Regions from separate parts of the Homo sapiens genome. Here region 2 is linked to region 1. Evidence: fine-mapped QTL for protein levels in blood plasma. A gene starts in region 1. The other region holds a variant in brackets. All regions are shown on one strand. Distances are from middle to middle. Region 1 holds the start of PLXNB2 (plexin B2). Region 2 overlaps PLXNB2 (plexin B2).

Evidence for each region. PIP is the chance, under the fine-mapping model, that this variant and not a neighbour inherited with it causes the effect. Protein levels are from the aptamer-based SomaScan assay of Sun 2018.
Region 2: its variant is fine-mapped to the plasma level of the PLXNB2 protein (Sun 2018, PIP 0.95). The variant lies in the coding sequence of PLXNB2. If it changes the protein, the assay may bind it differently, which can mimic a change of level.

Annotation. Positions count from the first base shown.
Region 1 is chr22:50,304,502-50,313,101 of GRCh38, forward strand. PLXNB2 (plexin B2) reads right to left here and starts at 3,145. Exons shown (of 37, transcript NM_012401.4): 1 at 3,052-3,145. It overlaps DENND6B (DENN domain containing 6B), which reads right to left. Exons shown (of 20, transcript NM_001001794.4): 17 at 8,498-8,600; 18 at 8,022-8,124; 19 at 7,842-7,916; 20 at 4,529-7,760. The coding sequence ends at 7,638. RefSeq lists enhancers at 799-1,998, 1,388-1,757 and silencers at 2,306-2,456, 2,977-3,046, 3,057-3,256, 3,417-3,466, 4,167-4,216.
Region 2 is chr22:50,280,003-50,294,303 of GRCh38, forward strand. PLXNB2 (plexin B2) reads right to left here. Exons shown (of 37, transcript NM_012401.4): 3 at 9,515-10,595; 4 at 8,958-9,140; 5 at 8,741-8,869; 6 at 7,935-8,035; 7 at 7,665-7,791; 8 at 7,109-7,262; 9 at 6,171-6,285; 10 at 5,988-6,096; 11 at 5,798-5,899; 12 at 4,571-4,663; 13 at 4,130-4,211; 14 at 3,831-3,988; 15 at 3,600-3,748; 16 at 3,335-3,443; 10 more. The coding sequence starts at 10,582. Among named protein-coding and RNA genes, the nearest start is that of MAPK11, 17 kb to the left of the region's middle. RefSeq lists enhancers at 2,115-3,314, 12,671-12,720 and a silencer at 12,491-12,550. The variant T/C (reference allele first, on the strand shown) is at 3,736.

The DNA.
Region 1 (8,600 bases):
AGGCAGGGGTCCTTACAATCCAGGGGTATGGGAAGAAGCAGGCCCTGTGTCAAGGGATGTGAAACCACGGAAAGGAAGAAGGTGGAGGAACCTCGACCAGAAAGAGGGAAGCTAGGGCAGCTGCCTCCCCGGGGCCCCAGAGCCTGAGCACCCCCCACCAGCCAAGGCTCTGACCCACCCTCCCCATCGTGTAATTAGTCAGAGACCCAGCCCCACCCCACCCACAGCCCCACCCCAAACACAAACAGCCACTACCCCTGAGGGAGGGAGGGGCTGTGGCCAGTCCCAGCCCTACTGAATCTCCCACCCCCAGAGAACCTGGATCTGCCTCAGAGAAGGGAGGTCAAGGCTGGGGGGCCACTTGCTGGCCACTGGGTGAATTCTGAGCAGCTCACCACCTCATCCCCAAACCGTGTCCAAGGCAGGCTCTGGGCACAAGAGGTTCCCCGCCAACTTCCAAGGAGGGCGGCCAGGCTGCAGCCAGAGGGACGGAGGCATGAGCTGAGTGAGAACTCCCAGCTCAGGGGAAGGCAGCCCTCGTGGCAGAGGCCTGGCATCCAAGTGCCTGCCTAGCTCAGAGAAGGCACAATATGAGGGGCCGGAAGACACAGCCTCTCCCAGCCAGTGCACCCCTGCCCACGCCCGCGTCCCAGGGGGACCATCAGCTGTGGCTGGCACAGGGTGAGGCAGGGGGCAGGACACGGTGAGCACGGACGACGTCCTGGGATGGGAGGAGGACTGTGCCATATGGGCCCTCCCCACCACCTTCCAATCCAATCTCTTCTGCTCCACTTCCCTGGGCCGGGTCCAAGGCTCTGGGCTTTCTGCACTTGGGGCCAGCTGCCGGCTCCTCCTCCCCGATGTGGTCCCCATGCAGGCCGCCGGGCACACACCCCGGGCGCACACACAGCATGGACCCAGAGCGCCAGGTAGCCACAGCCCTGGCCACACAGCATCGCAGATGACTCCTCACATAGACCTATCTCTGGCCTCAGTCTCCCCACCTGCAGGATGGGCTCACAGGCGCCATATCCAGAGGGGGTCGTAGGCAAGGACTGGCTGTCGGAGGGGCTTGGAGGGAGGCTGGTCCGTTAGTCAGGAGCTGAATAGGGAGTCCGTTGGGGCAGGAGGGCCCCCTGAGGGAAACCCCAGTGCCCTCCCTAGCAGCCTAGCCTCGCTCCTGCCTGCTCCTCCCTGGCACGCACAGGTCACTGGCACAGGGTGTGTCCCTGAACTTGGGCCTGGAGGGTACCTCAGAGGCTCTTCAGACCACCATTGAGACTTCTCGGGGCGAGGGGGTCCCTGGGTGGGGCGAGGGGGTCCCTGGGTGGGCCCAGAGCTCCTCCTGTTCCATGGTCTCCCCCAGAGGGGCTTGGGCCCACTGCAGGCTCAGCAGGGCCTGCTGGGGCCAACCTTGGGGCTTTCTCCAACCCAAAGGTGACGCATCTTCTCCCCGCCCAGTCTGGGCAGCTGCAGTAGAAAGTGGCAGAGCTGCCCGGACTTGCCCGTCCTCCTCCTGGGGCCCTCAACCCACGTCCCGGAAGTGGATCCTTCTCCCACGCTGCAGCCTCCCGCTTCGGGTGACTGGACACGGCTGGATGATCCAAAATAATTCTTTCTTGGCAGGCAGCCGGTGGGGGAGGGGGACTCACATTCCAAACCCTTGTTTTTCTCAGTAACTTCCCTCCTCTACTGGGGCAAGGAACCCCTGGCCAGACCTCAGGCCTCCCAGACCCCCCGGGACAGAGGTGGGCCCCCCATAGGTACCGTGGGAGGACTCAGATGTGCCAGGCCCACCTGCTTGCTTCTCAGTCGGCTCTGGGGATTTCTATGCAACATGCAAAAAGCTGACTCGCCACAAACCTATGCCTGCTGGCCCTGCCCTCCGGGAGACCCTCACCTCTGGACAGGAAAGGGAGGGCTCCTCCCACCAGCTGTTCAGCTGTTCCGTGCCAGGGTCATCTGGGCATGGGGCAGGCTGAGAGCCCCCACTTCCCGGCAGCCTCGCTCTCCCACCCGCAAAGGGCTCCTGAGGAAGCTCAACTTTAAAGCCTCACAGGCTGCGCCGAACCTCCAAGCAAGGGCCGAAGTCAGACATTAAGTGGGGAGGGCGGGGGGGTCCAGGGAAGGTGGGGCACAGGGAGCCCTCCAGGCCGCCGGGATCTGCCGGGTTTGGGGCCCACCCTCACCCTCACCCTCACCCTCACCCTCACCCTCACCCTCACCCTCACCCCCTGTCCTGACTCTGCCACAGCCCACAGTGGGCAGACGGACCCCTTTCTTCCTTTCCCAGGGAGCTTCGGGAAGAGAAATCAAGGGCCTGGCAGGAAGCCCCAGGGCGTCCGGGCTCTGAGACCCCCAGATGACAGGGGGAGGCGGGCTCCCCAGATCTGCCGAATAGCCCGACCAGGGGCGCTGGCAGGGCAGGGGCTTCCTGCAGGAGCAGGGTGCGGAGGGGCAGGGTCAGCAGGGGACAGGCAGGGCTCGCGCCCCCGCTTCTGAGACTTTCTGTGTCTCGGGGTGTCCACCCAGACGCCACTCTGGGAACCGCGAGGAGGCCCAGGCAGTGGGGTCTCGCCAGGTGCGGGTGCTCTCCGCCCTGGTCCCCCCGCGCCAAGCAGGCCCCAGGGGGTGCGGGGACGGCCCCCGGGAGCTCGGGCAAATCCAGGCTCCTGTGCCGCTGAGCCTGGGGCCGGCCCGGAGCGCCCGCACCGCGAGACCATCTCCGCTCGGCGCACGGAGCTCGGCGGCTGAAGAGTGAGAGGCAGGCGCGGAGGAGGGATCCGACGCGGCTCCGGAGGGACGCGCAGCCCCCGCCGCCGGGCCCGTCCCCCGAGTCAACACCGGGAAGGGAGTGGGGCGGCAGCGGCCCGGGCCTCGCCGGATGGACCGACGGACGGGGCCCAGGCCCCGGGAGCCCTCCGCGGAGCCGCAGCCGCCGCAGGTCCCCGGGCCCCAGCGCGGCAGGCCCGGGCGGAGCGGCGCTGACGGCGAAGCCCCCCCCACGCCCAGCGAGACGTCCCCCGCAGCCCAGTCCCCCGAGCTCGGTACCTGCACGTCCGCCGCCAAGGCTCGATGGCGCCCGGGCCGCGCTCGGCGCTGCGCTCTGGCCCGCGCTGCTGCCATGGAGACGGGGCCTTTGTGTGGCCGAGGAGGGGCCGGAGCGCGCGGGAGCTGCCGGCCCCGCCCCCGACGAGGGAGAGGAGGGGAGGGCGGGGAGAACAGGAGAAGGGGGGAGAGGGAGAGGGAAAGCGGAGGGGGAGAAGGAGGGGGAGGGGGAGGGGGGAGAGGGGGAGGGGGGAGAGGGGGAGGGGGAAGAGGGGGAGGGGGAGAGGGGGAGGGGGAAGAGGGGGAGGGGGAGGGGAGGGGGAGCAGGAGCGGGGAGGAGAGGGCAGAAGAGAACCGGAGAGGAGGGGAGGGGACGGGAGGGGAGGGGCTGGGCCTGCGCTCCCCGCGCCCCCCACTTCTCCCCTGCCCAGCGGCCACAGCATTGTCTGGTAGGTTCAGGCACCCCAGTTCAGACCCAGGTTCAGCCAGGGCAGCACCCTGCCCACCATGCCGCCGTCCAGGAAGCACGAGCGCCCACAGAGGCCCCATGGCCTGAGCACCCCCACAGGAACCCCGCAGGTCTGAGGGGAGGCCATGGCTTGGTACCAGGGGAGGGCATTATGAGTGCACTCTCGCCTGGCCAGAGGAACGTGAGGGTCCCTGCCAGTCTTGAGATGTGTGGGCACCAGACTCTCACTCCCAGACTGGAAGCATACCAGTCGCTCCCCTGCGGCCTTCAGGGGTGGGGGCTGCTGGGCTTTGGCCCTTTCCCAGGGGTCTCAGGCCCTCAACCTCCCAGGGTAAACTGGGACCTGGAGATGGCCTCCCAGCACATCCCTGGCCTCCAGCAGCACCTTGGGATGCTGCACCCGGGACCCCACCTGGTCCTTCAGGGCCAGGAGGTGGGCGGGCCGAGACCTCTTTCTGGGGGTTCTGGTTTCTGGGACAGAGCTGGCCCCACTTCTGGCATCCCAGGTCCCAAGTCCTGGCCTCAGTGCTCCTAGTGTCCCCTGGGCTTGAGAAGAGGTGGTGAACCGTCTGCAGGGCCAGACCTTGGAGCACGCCTCCACTGCCCTCCCGGAACTGGATGTGCTGAGCAGGAGACAGAAGCATTCCCCAAGCTCTTGCCCCCACCCTGGGTCACCCCTCCCTGGGGCCCGCCTTCCACCCAGACCTGCCCCGTCCTTGCAGCTGGTCAGCTTCCTCCTGTCCCCAGCCAGGCATCCCCTCCTCCTCTGCTTCCCCCACCCGGGATCCGCCCCGCCACATCCTGACAAACTCCCCCAGCCTGACTTAGTTCTTTCAGTCTCTGCCTTCTCCCACCCTCAAGCAGCCAGGCCTTGTTCCTGTCCAAAATCTTCCCTTGGGCCTTGAACCACAATCCACATCACGGCAACCCTACCCTTCACTGCAGAGGACCCCAAAATTACCAGGTTCTGACAAGGTTGCCAACTTTTTATCAAAAAAGGAAAAGACAAGGTCCAGTCACAAAAGGACATTTTAATACCAAAACTGTGGGAAGGCCACTGTTCTAGACTAAAAGGGAGTCTTTAAATAGCCAGCAGGAAGCTTGAGGGTGAGCAGCTGTCCTTCCTGTCCCTGAGCAGGCCCCCTGTGTGCACCCTCAGCCCCGAGCCCCACTCCAGACCTGCTCCCAGCCCTTCCCACCCTCTAGGTTCTGTGGTCCCTGTCCTTCGGGAGGCCTGTGACCACAGCAGTCCTCACCCTCGCCAACTAAGTTCTGCCCAGCAAGCCCTCTTGCCTGCGGGGGCTGGCACTCTGGCCAGGGGTAGAGCTGTCTGGACCTTCCTGCCTCTTCACTGACTGCCCCTGGCCTGGAGTGCGTGGGGCGGGGAGGGCCATGGCCTAGCCCTGGACAGAGGCTCAGCCAACTCAGAGCGGCCCTGACACTGGGGGGGCCACAAGAGGCATCCGGACAGATGGAGCTGGCAGGTCTCCACGCCCAGCCCCCACCCATCCACCCCAGGCCACATTCCACCCCAGGCCTCTTCTGCACAGGTGGGGACAGGCCCTGAGGAAGAGGGGCTGGGACACTACCCCCCACCTTAGCCTTAGCTTCTGCCCAGGGCAATGCTGGCCACCCAGCCCGGTTCCCCCCTCAAGTTCCCCCTTCACACGCCACTATGTGGCCTCACCAGAGCCCTCCAGGGAAATCTGCTTGTGCATTTCTGGATACACAGTGGCCAGGGTCCCTGGGGGCTCCTCAGAGACCAGCCTGAAGCCCCTCCCCTGCAGCCATGTGGGTCTGCAGCCCTCTGTGCTGTGCGGCAGCCCTCAGAAAGCCAAGTGAGGCGAGACTGTGCTGTGGGGAAGCACATGCTGCCACGGTCCTTGGGGTGCGCTCCCCAAAGTGGGGTCACAGTTGTGAGAGAGGTGGGTTGTCTTCCCAAGCTGCCCCGACACCTTGAAGTGGTGGTCCTCAGGGGGCTGGTCACCAGCATAAGGCTTTTGCAGAGGGCCCTGGTGGAGGGCAGCTGATGGCAGGGCCTGTACTGGCCCCCCAGGCCCCATCTTATGGAGGTCAGCATTCAAGCTGCCCACACAAGAGGTGCCAGCATCTCTGCAGACCCTCTAGAGACCAAGCCCTCAGTGGGGAGGCTGGTCCCCCTGTGCTACAGTCAGGAGGCCCAAGCTGCATTTGGGGCCAGGACCTTTCTCACCCTCGGGTCCCCGGCTTGTCCCTGCCACAGAACAGGTTTGCCACCTCGGCCTCTATGTGTTCTGTTTCATGTGGTCACATCCTTGGACCCTGCACCAGACATCTGGGGCTTAACAGCTCCCCTTGGTCACCCTCCCGGCTGCCTCCGCGTCTTGTCTGTAGAATGGGAACAGGGACAGGCTGTCCTGGGCTGCAGTTGGGCTGGACAAGTTGACATGTACCAAGTTCTGAGAACTACCTGGCGCCCGGACACCTGACCCCGCTGTCCTTGTGGCTCAGTCACATCCTGCACTGAAGTGGCTGGCAGTGCTCGCTCTCCACCACCTGGCTGGAGGTCTGAGAGCACCAATGAGAACACAAACAGTACGTTGCGCTGAATGAAGGCTACATTCCTCGGACTGAATGGGGGCCTCAGAAGAAAAAGAAAAGTCCCGGCCGGGCGCGGTGGCTCATGCCTGTAATCCTAGCACGTTGGGAGGCCGAGGCGGGCGGATTACGAGGTCAGGAGATCGAGACCATCCTGGCTAACATGGTGAAACCCTGTCTCTACTACAAATACAAAAAATTAACCAAGCGCAGTGGTGGGTGCCTGTAGTCCCAGCTACTCGGGAGGCTGAGGCAGGAGAATGGCGTGAACCCGGGAGGCAGAGCTTGCAGTGAGCCGAGATCATGCCACTGCACTCCAGCCTGGGCAACAGAGCGAGACTCCATTTCAAAAAGAAAAAAAAAGAAAAAGTCCCTCCCCCAGCCCTGTGTCCCCTGGCCAGCACCCGCCCGGCCTCACAGGGTACAAAGCCCAGTCTCCATGAGTGGCCCTCCCAGCACCCTGTCGGGCATCTGCATGGCTGGCTCGCTCAGATGAGGAGTCTGAGGGTCTGAGTGGTCAGGGGACCTGCTCCCGGGCACACAGTGCGTGATGCTGAGCAGGGCTTGGCTGTCCGGAGCCCTGACAGTACCGTCACTGTGTGCTGTGCAGGGTCAACACCGTACCTCACCGGCCTCAGTGCCTGCAGGTGTCACGGGGGGAGCATACAACCCAGAGGTGGCTCTTAGGGACGTTCACCCCTTACCAAGGAAAGGGAGACATGCAGGCTCCAGCCAGAGGCAGGGTCAGGCCGAAGTCCAGAGCCCCTTGGGCTGCATGTGGGGGATGGACGGACACACTTGGACAACAGGAGCCCTGTCCACCTCCCAGAAGGGACGCACGGAGCTGGTGCCTGGTGGGGGCTCCAGGACTGGGAGCCAGGAAGGTGCTGTGGCTCTCCGAGAGCCAGGCTGAGCCAGCTCTCCTAGCAGAGGTGCTGGGCTGCACACAGCCCCCTGCCCAACCCCTACCTCCCAACAAACCACAGCCCCAAGCAGGTGGGTGTCCAGAGGAGCACCAGGGGTGGTGAGCAGAGCTCTTCACACTGCAAAGTGGTCTCTCCCTTTCTCAAGTTGATGACTATATGCAAAATAGCCTCCCATCCCCAGACAAGACGGGGGCTGTGTCAGGAGAGGGTCCCTCCTGTCCTGGGCAGCCTGTTGGGCTGAGGGAAGCATCACACACAGCGCAGGGGGGTCGGGGGCCAACAGATGGGCACCGGGAGGGGCAGACGGTAGACGCACCCACATCAGCAAGGGCTCCCAGCCTGTCCCCGCCCCCGTCCCAGCCTAAGGTCTGCAGAGGCCAGGTGGGACCCAGGAGGAGGCAAGGCTCTGCCTGCGAGGAACCCCTATGGTCAAGGCCATGCTGTGGTTCCAAATGTCGCCTTTACTGCTGAGACAATGGTGGTGCAGGAAGGGGAGCCTGCAGTCTGGGCGGGGGGCCAAGGAAGGGGAGCGTGTGCTTGGCCCAGTGCCGCCACCACTGGGGAGTGGGAGGCTCAGGCAGACCTAGGGCCCTGGGACCGTGGCCCTTGGCTTTGTTCTAGGGAGGGCACAAGACAGCCTGCAGGTCTTTGGGCAGGGAGCCGATGACCGTCTCGATGTACAGCTGTGCCCGCTGCAGCGTAGCCTCCTTCACAGGGAGCTGGTGGCCCTGAGCCCGCACCTGGAGGGGCAGCCATGGTCAGGGCAGGCGCAGCTCCGTGCCAGGCTGGTGGCGCTGGGACAAGGCTGGGAGGCATCTTACCAGCTTCTCACGAAGTTTCAGGACCAGGTCCACGACCTCCACCTCGGACTTGTCTTTCATCCAGGTCTCGATGTTCTGCAGGGCAAGACGGGGTCTACTGTCAGCAAGGCCCCTCACTGCCCTGGGCCTGTGCCCACCCCCACCATGTTCTGGCCCTCCCCAACCCCCAGCCTCTCTCACCGCCTCACAGATAGCCTCCAGGTGCAGGGCCTCCAGCTTCAGGGCCATCTCCTTGTGCCGCTGCCGGTACCAGCCATCAAAATGGGGGGACTTGAAAAACCGCCTGTGGGGATTAACAGGCGGGGGGCCATGGGGCTGACCCTGGGGATTGACAGGCGGGGGCCATGGGGCTGACCCTGGGGATTGACAGGCGGGGGGCCATGGGGCTGACCCTGGGGATTGACAGGCGGGGGGCCATGGGGCTGACCCTGGGGATTGACAGGCGGGGGGCCATGGGGCTGACCCTGGGGATTGACAGGCGGGGGGCCATGGGGCTGACCCTGGGGATTGACAGGCGGGGGGCCATGGGGCTGACCCTGGGGATTGACAGGCGGGGGGCCATGGGGATGACCCTGGGGATTGACAGGCGGGGGGCCATGGGGCTGACCCTGTGGACCAAGGAGGGCTCAAGCTGCCTGCACCTGCAGTCCACGCACCTGTAGAGACCCAGCCAGTCGCCCTTGAGGATGCAGGTGAGCTGGGGCCCAGCATGCTCCAGGCTACGCAGGAAGTCATCCTGGCTGAAGGGCTGGATCTGGG
Region 2 (14,301 bases), 22 kb before region 1:
ACCTTGAGGTACTGGTACAGGCAGATGGACATCCAGTTGGACAGCATCCTCTCCACCACAGTCTCAGACCTGGGGGTGCAGGGAGGCCTTGTACCGAGTGACCCCGTAGTATTCCTGAGGCCCAACTGACTCCTCCAAGCACCCGGCCACCCTTGCGCCAGCCTCGCCCCTGTCCAGCCTGGGTGTGGCCTGCAGCGAGGACTACCTGGTGGCAGCTCCAGCCCTTGTGGGAAGTGTGCCACCTTCCTTCTGTTCTGCAGAGGGCTGACACTGTGACCAGCTGAAACCGCTGGACAGGAAGGGCTAGAGTCCGGCTTTGAGTTTGTGGCCGGGGACACCACCCCTAGACCGCCCCCCACCACCAGCGCTGGCTGGCACCTGCCGGCTCCTGGGGGCCCAACAGGCCGCTGTGCCACCCGCCACCAGCCCCAGAGCCCCTGCGGCCGCCCCGCCCGTGGCCCCGCTCGTGGCCCCGCCCATGTGCACCTGCGCAGCATCAGCTTGGGGTTCTTGGCCACCACGTACTGCTCCAGGAGCTCCAGGAAGAGCGTGTGCATGATGTCCGTGTAGTACTCCAGTTTCCCGTGCAGCGCCACCGTCAGCAGGGACGCGAAGTAGACCTTGGCGCGGGCCGAGAACTCCCGCTGGTTCTCCAGGGTGTGGATGAACTGTAGGGGCCGGCGGTCAAAGCCTGCCCGGCGCCACCTGTGTGCCCTCCCGCCCGCCCGACGCCTGGCTCACATTGATGAGGAAAGACTTGCTGTTCAGCAGGTTGGAGAACTGGTAGAGGGCCTGCTCCACCACCGGCCGCCGCGGCTCAGGGATGTCCAGCTTGCCGGTGATCATCACGTCCTTGTCGCCGTCCTTGGAGGGCAGGAAGAAGACGCGGTCGGTGTAGGTCTTGTAGTCCAGCACGGGGATGCCGGCCTCGTGCACGTCGTTGGTCTGGTCCTCCATCTCGATCATCAGGTCTGGGGGGAGGCTGGCGTGAGACGTCCCTGGCCACGTGGGGCCCTGACCCCCACGCTACACACAGCATCCCCGCCCCAGGAGGCGCCCCAGCACCAGCCCCCAAGCGGTCCCTACCTGTGAATTCCTTCTTGCAGCGGTCCCGCACGCTCTCCTCCAGGCCCTCCAGCTGGGACTTGATCTTCTCATACTCTCGTTCGGCCTGCTGGCTCTTCCTCCTGCAAGGCACAGCGGGCCTCCTAGGTTCTGCCGGGGCTGGCCGCTCAGCTGCCCGGATGAGGAGGTGGATCTACACGCCTGCCTGTGCAGGGCGGCGGATGAGGCCAGAGGGGCCGAGGCGGGAGGGCCGAGGGCTCAGGGTGTTGGCACAGCCGGGGGGCGGGCTCACCAGTAGCAGTAGACAGACACCGCGATGACGACCACCATGGGCACGATGACCAGCGGCAAGATGAGGCTGAGCGGCACGTCGCTCACCCGTGTGTCGTACTCCACGCGGCCCAGCACCCACTCGCGAGAGCCGAACTTCACCTGTGTGGGGGGCCGGGTTCAGCGCGGTCCCGTGGGGGCACCCCCCGCCAGTCCCCGCTCACGCACAATGAACTCGGGCAGGTTGTGTGTGGTGTCTCGTTTCTGCCGCCGCTTGGGCGGGGGCTGCACCTCCGGGGGCTCACAGTACAGGTCGGTCTCCGTCAGCGTCTTCATGGTGCAGCGCTCGGCACCCACGAAGGCCTCGGCCTCCTGCAGCGTCATCGCCTTGTTCAGATTGGTGCCCTGGGGAGGCGGCAGTGGTCGGGGTGAGGAGGAGGGAACCAGGGACAGGTGGACCAGCTCTCAGCCCAGACCCGAGCAGGACCCAGACACCCGGGGCTGCACCGTCCTCACCCGGGCGTGGATGAGCTTGTTGACCTGCTTCTTGACGCCACCTGTGAAGTTCTCAAAGGTGGGGTCAGGCACGTACTCGAAGGCCCCGGCCTCTGTTCTGAGCAGGGCACGGTGCCCGTCCATCTCGATCAGCACCGTGAGGTTGTAGGCCTCTGGCTCCTCAGGCACAGCCGGGGACAGGAAGACGACCTTGGTGTCATTGTGGAACACGTAGTCTGTACCCACCACCTGCAGGCAAGTCCCAGCTGTCAGCCCCCGGGCGCAGACCCCGCCCTTCCTGGGCACGATCCCATGGGCCGGTGCCAGAGCTGAGCCCACGCCAGGACTGACCGTCATGGGCTGCAGGGATTCAGCCTCCCGCGGCGGCTGCCAGGACTGCAGGGGCTCCGCGATGACCACCATGGCAAACCTCTGGATCAGGCTGAAGCCCTGACCCGTGACGTTGATGCTGCGGCCACCACTGCGGAGGGCAGTGCCTTCGTGGGCTCGGCTGGCAGGGGTGGTCCCTGCAGCCTCCGCCCTCCCGTCCCCGCCCACCCTGGCCCTGACCACACGGGGCTTCCAGGTGCATGTGTGGGTCTCGGTGGGCAAAGGGGCAACGCGGTGGGACGTGCTGAGCACGAGACTGTGCCGCAAGTGGGCGGGGGGCACACGGGGCCTGGTGAGCGTGGAGCCTCTGGTGTGCCCATCTGGGTTTCTAGGAGGAAGTGGATCTGGAGTGCAGTGGGGTTTTCCGGAGGCCGCCTCCCGCTGCACAGACCAGCCCCACCACATTCCTTTCAGCACAGTCAGCCAAGGGCACTGAGGAGGCAGCTGGGTGTGGGGAGCAGAGGGGGGCGGGGGGACACCAGCCTCACCTGGCAAAGCTTCGTAGCGGCTCGAAGGCTCGCAGTACGGGGTTTTCGCGGTAGGTGAAGAAGATGCCGGGGTTGGGCACGGGGGACCCCCCGTAGGAGACCTCCAGAAGCATCTGGCCCCGTGTCGCCTGGGGGCCAGTGACACACTGGAGCTGCGCCCCAAACTTCGTCCTGGGGGAGGGAGGGTGCTGGTCTGCATCAACCCCTCCCCCGGGACCAGCCCCAGCCCGACCAGGCTGGCCCCGCCATCCCCTCAGGGCCACTCAGGTCTCAGTAAGTGCCCCCCTCCATACCCAGGGCCAGGGCCAACCAGACTCAGCAGCTGGCGGTGACACCCACACTTTACACGGGACGCCGTTGAGGGTCACCCGCACGTCCTCCTGGGAGCCCGTGTCCAGGTGGGTGCCGTGGATGGTCAGTGTGGTGCCGCCCGCCTGCGGTCCCTGCTGCGGCTCCACACTGAGAGGCTTGGGCTGCTGAAAGAGCCGCAGGGGCACTCGGGTGAGGACGGGGCACAGGACGCCCTCGGTCCTGGGCTGGATGGTAACTGTCGTGGGGAGGCGGCGGGCAGAGCCCCTCCTCCCGGTCCTCCCGGGTTCGGCAGGTCCCCGAGGCCGGGTGCTTACTTGGAAGGTGAACTGGACATTGGGAGGCGAACGGCCCAGTTTCCCGAAGACGTCCACCTCGACACCCCCCGTGAAAGGCGTCTCCGCAGCCTCGATCACACACACGATCCTGGCGGGCGACAGGCAGTGTGGCCCAGGCACTCCCCGACCCACCCCACACCCTGACACCCTCACCCCCTCAGCCTCCCCACCCACCCAGTCACCCGGAACCCCAGCGTGGGTACTGACCCAGCTGACAGGGCCCAGACCAGGGCCGTCCACTCACCGGGTGGACACGGAGTAACGTTCCGGCTGAAAGGAGCAGTTCCGGCCGGCCACAGAGATCCTCTGGATGTCCCCTGCTTGGACGCCCAAATTGGACCCCAGGATGGTGATGCGGATGCCCCCACCCAGGGGGCCCG[T/C]CTCAGGCTGGATCTGAAACCACAGAGCCGGGTGAGCAGGGAGGGGCTCATGCCAGGGACGAGGGAAGGTGTAGGCCAGGCTTCGAGGGGCTCACCCTGGTGATGACGGGCGGCGGGCACTCGGAGGTGGTGTTGCACAGGGCCTCATACACGCACCTGCTCTGGCCCCCGCACCACGCACACCTGTAGTCGGGGTTAGCGGCCCGGCACAGGCTGCAGTCGCTGCGGCCAAAGGAGCAGTTGTAGAGGGTCACTGCGGGGAGAGCTGCCGTCAGTGGTCACCCCGTGCCTGCCCGCCCCCGACCTGCTCCCCACTGCGCCCACCTGTCCCCCCACCCACCGCCTTGTGCCCACCCGTCCCCTGCCCGCCCCCCACTGCGCCCGTGGCCCCCACCATGGAGCTTGCTGTCGATATTCTTGCCGTAAGACTTGACGTAGAGGTGCAGGGGCAGCGTCTCGTTGGCATCGTGGGACAGCTGGGGGACACGCAGGGGCACACTGCACTTCCTGCCCCCACAGAGGGGCGTGGGGCGGGGGTCACAAGGGCAGCCTCCCTGTGGCCACCGGGTCCCTTCCCAGCCAAGGGCAGCAGGGGAGGCCTTCAGGTGTCGGAAGTTCGGGAACCCCATGGACGCTGCTCTGTGCCACTCTGTCCCCAGGGAGGCAGAGGGCAGAGGGGGCTTCCCCAGCAGCACAGGGCATGGCGAGCCCCTGGCTGGGCTCTGGTCCCTGGGGTCTCCCTGCTGCCCCTCCCCTCACAGTCCTGAAGGTGACCCCCCACCCCACCCGGGGCCCTGGGGTCCAGCAGCCGAGCCGGCCTGCCCTGGAGCCGTACCTTTGGGGTCCGAAAGGCGAAGGTCCCAGATTCCTGCATGGTCACCGGCTCCATGAACTTGAGCAAGTCACTGCCCACGTGCAGGGAGGAACCCTGCAGACCATGCCGTCAGGACCCTGGACAGGCGGCTGTGGCACCCTGGCCCTCCTCCCAGAACCCCTGCAGCCCCTCCTCTGTGCCTACAGTGTGGGAGCCCTCTCCTCACCCCACACATGCCCGCCCCTCAGATTACCATGCCAGCTGACCCCTCGGCCACTCCTGAGCCCAAACACCTGTGTCTGCAGAAGCCTCTGAACGTCCTCTGTGGGTTTCCCACGGCCACCTCCACCACTCATCCACACCTGAGAACATCGCCCGGCCCACCTGACATCGTGGCCCCCACAGCTCCCTCCTCAGGAGGTGGCACTGGCCCCTCAATCTCCACACGCCTGCCTCCTCCACTGCCTCTCTTCAGGCCCATCCAAAGGCCCCCGAGTGCTGCCTCCTGGCCTCTGTCCCCGATAAATCCTGTGCCCTCTACCTCATGTGGGGGCCCCGAGTCGGGGGGCACGGGTGGAGCTCAGGCTTCCCACACACCCATCAGCACTGGCCGGCACCCCTCCCTCCGTACCTTAGCCTGCCTGTCACCAACCGGCACCCCCTCCCTCCGCACCTGAGCCTGCCTGTCACCGGCCGGCACCCCTCCCTCCGCACCTGAGCCTGCCTGTCACCAACCGGCACCCCCTCCCTCCGCACCTGAGCCTGCCTGTCACCGGCCGGCACCCCTCCCTCCGCACCTGAGCCTGCCTGTCACCGGCCGGCACCCCTCCCTCCGCACCTGAGCCTGCCTGTCACCGGCCGGCACCCCCTCCCTCCGCACCTGAGCCTGCCTGTCACCAACCGGCACCCCCTCCCTCCGTACCTGAGCCTGCCTGTCACCGGCCGGCACCCCTCCCTCCGCACCTGAGCCTGCCTGTCACCGGCCGGCACCCCTCCCTCCGCACCTGAGCCTGCCTGTCACAGCCGGCACCCCTCCCTCCGCACCTGAGCCTGCCTGTCACCGGCCGGCACCCCTCCCTCCGCACCTGAGCCTGCCTGTCACAGCCGGCACCCCTCCCTCCGCACCTGAGCCTGCCTGTCACCGGCCGGCACCCCTCCCTCCGTACCTGAGCCTGCCTGTCACCGGCCGGCACCCCTCCCTCCGCACCTGAGCCTGCCTGTCACCAGCCGGCACCCCTCCCTCCGCACCTTCACGGTGTCCAGGTTCTTGCCCTGGAAGTTCACATCTGTCTCGTGGTTCATGGGGATCACCAGGGGGCTGGGTCCCAGGAACTGGGGACAGCTGTCCTCCTGGGAGAGTAAGGCTGGTCAGGTGCTGCCTGGGCACAGCGGAGCAGCCATGCCCTGAACAGTCCCCTGAGGCCCCGAGGCCCCTCACCATGTGGGCACGGACGATGCCGTCCTCAGGGTTGGGCGAAGCCTCCCGGCACTCGTGGTAGCGCAGGTCCCACTGGCAGGTCCAGCGGTTGCTCACGCAGGAGATGCACCTGCATCCAGAGGGGATCGTGAGCAGGGCTGGGGTGGACGGGCAGGGTGGGGTCGATGGGCACAAGACACTCACGGCAGGTTCTCCTCCAGGCTCATGGCCTGGCGGCAGTCGTAGAAGGGGTACTGGTAGGACGTGAGGAAGATGTTGCCTCGTCTAAGGAGGAGCTGGATGGTCACGGCCACGTGGTCTGCAGACAGCAGAGGGGGAGGTGTCAAGGTGGCGGCCGCAGGGCCGAGGGCCAGGCTGGGCCTCCCCTGGGGCTGACTCCTGGGGCCAAGGTGGAGACCCCTGGTCTTCAGGGGGCCCTGCCAGGACGCCCCGCATTCATGTTGGGCGGGGCCTGCCACCTGCTATCAGATCTCGGGTGGGGCTGCCAGGACGCCCGTTCACGCTGGGCTGGACCTGCCACCTGCTATCAGATCTTGGTTCGGGTGTCGGGCGCAGCACCGGGCTTGCCTTTCTCCCCCGGGTCCAGGTTGCTTTCATACCCTCTGTTCCCGCAGGCACTGAGGGCAGCGGCTCCTTGGAGTCTGAGTGGGACCTGCCAGGTCCCTGCCCACGTCACTGCGTGGCCCCACTGCCCCCAAAACTCAGGGGACATGGGCGCGACGCCTGCCCTGGCCCACATGCGAGGCCCTGCAGCCTCTGGGAACGGCCCTGCTCTCTGAAGCTGGACATGGCAGGAAGGGGTGAGGGGCGTCTGCCGAGACGACGGGGCCTGGCGCCTGGCACCCACATGCCGCTCCGGACGTGATGAGGGAGCAGGCTGAAGACAAGTCACCTTTGCTACAGGCCTGGGGGGCGTGGCTGCGGACAGCCCAAGAAGCCAGAACCTCCCCAACAGGCACAGCAACCCCACCACAGGCTTCATTCAGGCTGGGCCCCCGGAGCAGCCGCGGAGTGTGCCTGTGCAGAGCCTGCACCCAGGGGCCAGCAGAGGCGAGAGCCCGTGTGCACAGGGCCCCGTGCGACCGAGAAGGGCCACCCGGGGGCTCGGGAAGGGGCCTCACCCTGGCCTGGCGGTGTGACGGGGATGCTGCTTGGGGAGTTGCAGATGACGGCCTCGCCCTCCACGCGGGCGGGGTGTGGCGGCGACTCCCCAAAAAGGCACAGCAACTCGTCCTCCTCGCTCAGGGCAGGGAGGGGGCTGACGGTCAGCTGCACCTGAGGGAGGGGCCGTGCCGCTCACACTGGGAACCCCGAGTCCTGTCAGCCCACCTGCCGGTGACCCGACCTCCCTGCGTGTGTGGGCGCACGTCCCAGTGGAGCCTCCAGAACCCGACTCCACGTCTTCCAATACAGGCCTCTCTGTGGTCACCCCAGCAACTCCTGGGACAGGGCCTGAGTCCACCCTGGATATGGACAAGCCCCACCCCTGCCCGCCCAGGTCATAGGGGTCCAGGGGACCAATGGAGGGCGGGCTCCATCCCTAAGGCTCGGTGCCCAGAGCCCAGGCGGGGGAGATGTGGAGCCCTCCCCTGCCTGTCCCAACAGCTCCCAGCATGGGGGAGCCCCCACCTGGCCCGGCCTGGGGCCCAGGACCCCCACCCCAGACCCACCACGCACCTCCCCCTGGGCCCGCCGGCTCATGTTCTGTGGCTGGGCGCTGGTGACGGCCACGCAGGACTTGCTTCGGCTCCACAGCCAGTGGCTGGCCTCCTCGGCCCGCGGACACTCGGCCTTCCGGGTGCATCTGCAGGCGCAGGGGGCGGCCTCAGCCCAGGGTGGAGTCTTGTTCTCCCGGGACAGGACAGTGCGATGTGCCCCCCGACCCAGGCCACGACCTTCCGGGATCCCAGAGGCAGGCCGTGTCCCCGAGCCACCCCAGGCACTCACCGTCCCTCGACGACGCACCAGCCGCAGTAGGGGTCCTGGGAGTCGCGGCACTGGGTGCAGGTCGGGTAGCTCAGGCACTCCTGCACCGGCAGCCGGAACACCTAGGGCAGCGGGGCCGTGAGTGGGACCACAGCAGAGGCCGCACGGGCCTTCCGCAGACCCCAGATGTCCCCAGACCGCCAGCTTGACCCAGCTCTGTCCCGGGGCCTCGGGAGCCTCAGACACCTCAGGCTTGATATTAAACAGTTCTGGCTCTGGGTGGCCATGCCTGGCCCAGGATCCCGATGGGAGCCCAGGGAAGCCTGGAGGTCTTGGCTATGGTGTCTCCCGGGGCAGCTCCTGTCCTCTACACTGGCTCCCTCCGAGGGGTGCTCCTAGGGCTGGCCTGAGGGTCTCTGGCACTAACCCCCCACAAGCTTGGGGCCCAGGCCCATGTTCTCCACTGACTGAGCTCACATGGGCTGTGCAGGGACCCCGTCTTCCCATCCACCCTCAGCAACACGCCTCAGACACCAACCCAGGTCCCTTCCATCAGGACAGGGCAGAGGCGGGGCCAGAGGGAGAGACATGGTTGAGACCACAAAGGACAAACAGAAGGAGCGGCAGAGACGGGGCAGTGCTAGAGAGACACAGGATGGAGGCACTGCCCGGGACCCACCCAGCCACCCCTCATCCAGACCAAGGAGAAGGGCCCAGCTCTGCAGCACCCCATCCTCCTCTGGCCCCCAGGCCTGTCCTAAGGGCCTGGGATGCAATGACCGGGCACACTTGGCCTAGAGTGCTCTCCGGGGCTGCGTCTGGCTCACCTTGTCCTGGGTCATGGCGTACAGGCTGCCCAGGTCTCCAGACAGTACCAGGTCGCGCTTGACTCTCTTGTTTATCTCCACAAGGATAGAGTCGTACTCTGAGGAGGTGCCATCTGGGGTGAGGTACACCTGTGTGCGCGAGGGCAGGCCGGTGAGGGTACGGGCCTTGTGCACAGACGGGCCCTCCAGAGCCTCCCCGCCCCAGCCTGGGCCAAACCTTGAGGATCCGGCCATCAGAGGTGCCCAGAAAAGCAACAGTGTGGTTGTTCTCGGCGGCGACCGTCACGGCCGTGAGGTTCAGGCCTCCACGCTGCAGCACGGCTGTGCCTCTGAGCCCGTCGCGGCTGCCCAGCGGGTAGGGCAGGTGCTCCGAGCCACATGGGAAGCTCTTGCTGGAGCCCTGCGGACCACAGCGTGTCAATGGCAGGCAGACCCCCTGTCCTGAAGGGCCCTCTCCACTCGCGCTCCAAGACTCGGGACAGGCCCTTCCCTTCCCTCCGGCACACGTCCTACACACGTCCCCGAGAACAGAACCCACATGGCAGGGAGCCCCACCGTGCTCACTGTTGTGTTCCCCAGTGCCCGACACAGGCCTGGGACTGGCGCCAGCGTGAATGGCATTGAGAGATGCGGCACCCACCCACGCAAGCGCCCAGGCTGGCGAGAGCCACGGCCACACTGCTCACGTGCACCCTCCCCAGCAGGCTGGGACACGCAAACCCACGAACGGACGCCTGCAGTCCGGGCCCTGCGAGAACACACTGAGGCCCATACCGGCGCGTGGCCGCCGCACTGGATATCGCCGTGGAAGGGCTTGTAGAAGATGTCACGGGCCTCCCGGGTGCCTGTGTAACAGGCGTTGCGGTTGGCCTCCATCTTGGCGTGCACCTTGTCCAGCGGGAACAGGCAGAGGCCCGCACCGGGCCCCCCACTGCTCCGGCTGTCTCTGCTGAAGACAGCATATAGCACCCTGCCAGAGCCAGGCGCAGCCACGGAGGCGGCCAGGCAGGTGCCAAAGGCAGCGGCGTGGATGTCGGGGTCCCGGCACTGCAGGTCCATCTCCAGGTAGGAGTAGTAGTTGGGGTCTTCTCTGCACATGCGTGCCAGCAGCGTGCGGTTCCGGGCCGGGTGCTTGTCCTGCTGGTTGAAGACAAAGAAGACGTAGGGGCCGTCCTCGAAGGCCGCCACGAACTGCTGTGTGTTGGTGGACAGGTAGCCGGCCTTGTAGGTGGCGTGGTCCGTGTAGGCTTCAAAGGCCTCCCTGCTGTCAGTCCGGTCCAACAGCCGAGTGCTCACGATGATGCCGTTGTCGTGTGGCCCATTGCCTTTGCCCACAAACAGCACGCGGTCACCACCAGGACCCGTGGAGCTCACCAGCCCCACTGTGGCCACGCCCTCATCATTGCTGGCCACGAAAGACTTCTCCCCGCTGCCGTCCTCGTAGAACAGGCGGAGGGAGATGTTGCTCAGGGCGCGCAGAGCGCAGATGCCCTTGAAGAGGCTGCCGCACTCCACCAGGCGCTTCCTGGGAGGGTCGAGCAGCAGCAGCTGGTTGACATTGTCAGTCATCTCAGCCTCATGGCACTGGCTGGCCTCGATGGGCGGCGTGCACTTCTTGTTGTCCAGGGCCGGGCCCGTGGCCACCTGCTGCTCCAGCTGCAGCTTCGCATCCAGCTGGTAGAGGGCATTCACCGCCCCCAGGTACACCACGCCTGAGGCCTCATCCACAGCCAGGTGGTTCAGCTCTTTCTCGCTGCGGAAGAAGTCCAGCTTGCGGGGCCTCAGGCTGGCACCTGCGCCCAGCAGGCCCAGCAGGGTCAGGGCCCAGAGCTGCAGTGCCATTGCCCCCCGCACCCTGTGGGAAGAGAGAAGGGTCAGGGGAGCCCCGACCCAGAGGACCCCCGATCAAATCCCTCTCCAGTCCCTGCCCCAAACGTCAGAACATGGGAGAGAGGGTCACGCCACTCCACGAACTGAGGAACCTGGAGCTCCGCCCCTTCCTGCTTCACACCCCCGCCATCCTCGAGGTCTCGCCGGAGACCACTTCTCAGCCCTCCTCAAGTCCACCCTGACTGACCACTGGGGCCAAGGCACTGCCATCGCCTGCTACAGGATCCCTCCCGGAGGTGCTGAAAACACCGGCAGGCCTATCCCCGAGGCAAGGAGTTGACGCCCCCAGAAAGGCTCTCAAGTGCTCACATTCATGCCCCCTGACCTGTGACCCCAAGGAGCTCCAGGTGGTCGGGACGCACCGGCCCCAGCGCACAGGCTCAGGCTGACAGACAGACCCCTGGACGTTGGAACAGGTGGCTCACCCATGGGGCAGAGGTGAAGGACACGGGAAACCAGAGGCTCAGGTGAGAGCGAGGGGTGCCCTGTGCATAGCCCAGCAAGTGCACATGCTGTTTACAACTGCCCGCCAGAGCCCCCAGGCGGCCTGAGCCTCCCTGACCACCTCCAGGCCCCCTGCCCTGGTGAAACAGTGGAAGCCAGCAATCACCCACAGCTCCTCGCTCGGCCCATGTCACGCCCAGGGCACAGCCTCTGATGTGCGCACAGCGGAGGCAACAAGGGGACCTGGGGAGCCATGAGCAACTCCAAATCCACCAGGTCTCAGAGGCAGAGGCCCCCACATCTGCAGCCTGGACAGGCTGTGTCCACATGCGTGTGTGTAACTGAGCACGTCTCGGTGTGGGGTCTGTGCCTGGGTCCGGGTGGATGAGGGGGATGTGTGGTGTGATGGGTGAGCTGCTGAGGACCAGGCTGAGCTGAGGGTCTCCCAATAGGAGGAAGATCCAAGGCCCCACAGGTGGACCCAGGACATGCGTGGTCCTCTCTCTTTCCCTCCCTACCAGACTCAACTGCATCTTGGGGGCTCAGACACAAGTGGCAGAGACAGGGCCCTTCTGCCTCTGAGCTCTTCCTCAGGGTGGTCCGTCCCTCTCACGCTAGGGACCCTGCTCCATCCTGGCCAGTGATCCCTACATCAGCCTCCCCTGCCAGTGCCCCCTCCTCATGCTCACAACCACCCCCACTCCTGGGCCCACCATCATCTTCCCTGAGTGCACCAGTACGGGGGGCTCCCAGGTGTCCAGGGCAGCCCTGCCATGGCAGGTGCCAAGGGGGTCCAGACTCGATGGCAGAGGGTTACGAGGGATGGAGGCCCTGGCCTCCCCCACCTCCCTGTGCAGGCCCACCCCGTGCCTCCAGAGGGACTGCCACATCCTCTCAGGCCACCACAAGTGTCACCTCCCTGCATATGTCTCATCCCCTCGAAACGCAATCCGCTTTCTCACCACATATTTGAAAGTTTTGCCAGGCCCGGTGGCTCACGCCTGTAATCCCAGCACCTTGGGAGGCCGAGGCGGGCGGATCACGAGGTCAGGAGTTTGAGACCAGCCTGGCCAACATGGTGAAACCCCGTCTCTACTAAAAACACAAAAAAATTAGCCAAGCGTGCTGGCACCCGCCTGTAGTCTCAGCTACTCCAGAGGCTGAGGCAGGAGAATCGCGTGAACCTGGGAGGCGGAGGTTGCAGCGAGCCAAGATTGCACCACTGCACTCCAGCCTGGGTGACAGAGCGAGACTCTGTCTCAAAAAAAAAAAAAAAAAAAAAAAGTTTTAAGTGTACAAAGAACAAGCCACAAAATGCAAATGTTTCCACATCCCTGTGTCTCTGACGGCCAGGCTGACCACGACAGCCTGTGACCCATTTCTCAGGTGAAGAAACTGAGGCACGGAGCAGAATTTACCCAAGGCCACACCGCGGGCATGGGTGGGGCTGGGATTCTGACATGCAGTGGGAGCAGCTTGGCCTCTGACCACTGTGTTTCTCCACCCTTTTGACAACCCCCCAAACCCCCTGGCCTCTGTCCTCCCAGGAGGGCAGGGGAGCCCGCTCTGCTGCTCCGTAGCCAGGGGAAGTGTTTCTCCCGAGCCTCGGCTTTGGGTGAAGCTGCATTTACTGGCACAGCCGCCCTCCACCTGCCCGTGGCAACCCCCCGTTCTGATTGCCCGCACGCTTCCTGAAATCTCTTGAGGTGTAACCAAGACGCAACCGACCGACAACATCTGAGCCACCCCAGGGCCCGCATGAGTGAGACAGCGCTGCACTGGCCTTCCTGCTCCCTGGGAGTGCACCCATTAGACAGGCAGCTCCTGCCCGGCACAGAACTCCCTCCCTGCACTGGGGGTTCAGTGCTCAGCTGCTGCCCAACCCCTGGAGCCCCCCAGGTGCCCACGAGCACAGCAGCCGCTGGGAGAGGTGACCACCCACAGGCTAGGGAGTTCCTGGCCGACTGGTGGCAGAGAGGCTGGGTAGGGCCATGGGACCCCAGGCTTCACCAGGATAGGGGTGATCAGCCAGGAAAAGATGCTGGCTTTAGTGAGAGACAGGAAGATTCTACAAGCCCACGGGAACCTCTGGGCATGATCCTGGTGGAGGGGGTTCTATGCCCAGCTCAGCCAGGGTCCCCCGCTGTGGCTCAGTGGCCTGTCCAGGGGAGAGGAGAGGAGGGCACAGGAGTCCCAGGCCTCCAGGAGAGGCCCGTAGGCTACAGCCACAGCCCATGGCCCTACCAGGGAGGAGCAGCGCCTGCCCGAAGGCTCCCCAACCCCCGCCGCGCCCCTCCCCTACCCACAGCCACCCGGGGGCAGGTCCCGCAGGCCCCCGCCTTCTAAGTGCACCCAGTGGCGCCAGCGGGGGCAGGCAACGTCCAGGCCCCTCGGCCCTGCGCCCAGGCCTGCTGCCCTCCCCTCCCAGCCCCGCTCACCCGGCCCAGCTCGCTCACCCGGCCCAGCTCGGTGGCAGTGGCAGAGGCAGCCTCAGCCAGGCGCAGCTCCCGGGAATGAATGGAATGCGCCCGCAGCTGGGAGGGGAATGCGGGGGCAGCGCGGGGGCGGGGCCCACGGTCCCCTCGGATCTGGCCCGGACCGTGGTGGGGCAGCCTGGGGAACCCTGCGGCGCCCCTAGCCCCAGGAAAAGCAATGGCTCTGGGCCCCCACAAGCCACCCCTCAGCCGTCCCCCAGCTTCCACCCAGGGAAGACACTCACCCACCCGCCAGGGCTGTAGGGGCCCCGGTACAGGAAGAAGGCTCTCCTGTCCCTGCCGGGGGCTGGCACACCCTAAGTGCTCAATAAACACCACCGTGTGCCACCAGGGAAAGCCTGACTCCCAGGGTCCTACAGGCCCAGGCTTTTCAGGGTGGCAGGCGCGGCTGGGGTGACACCCTACAGGTGGCAGCTGCCTTCTGGTTCCTGGACAAACAAGGCCTCAGGTGACCTGCCTGCCCAGGCCCAGGAGCAAAGGGCAACCCACCGGACCAGCAGCAAAGCTCCGGCGGCGCAGGAGGCGCCAGGCACAGCCAGCTACGCTTCCTGCTGCCTGTGTTCCTGGAACAGGAGGGAGGGCGGGCAGCAGGCACTTCCTGTTTTGAAGCCCTCCTGGGACCCCCACTTACGGGGCTGGCGGGGATTTCCTCGGGCCCTCTGGTGCCTTCCTCCTGGCTGAAGCTCGGAGGGGCACTTTCAAGAGGCCACAGCAACTCCGGCTGCTGCTGGG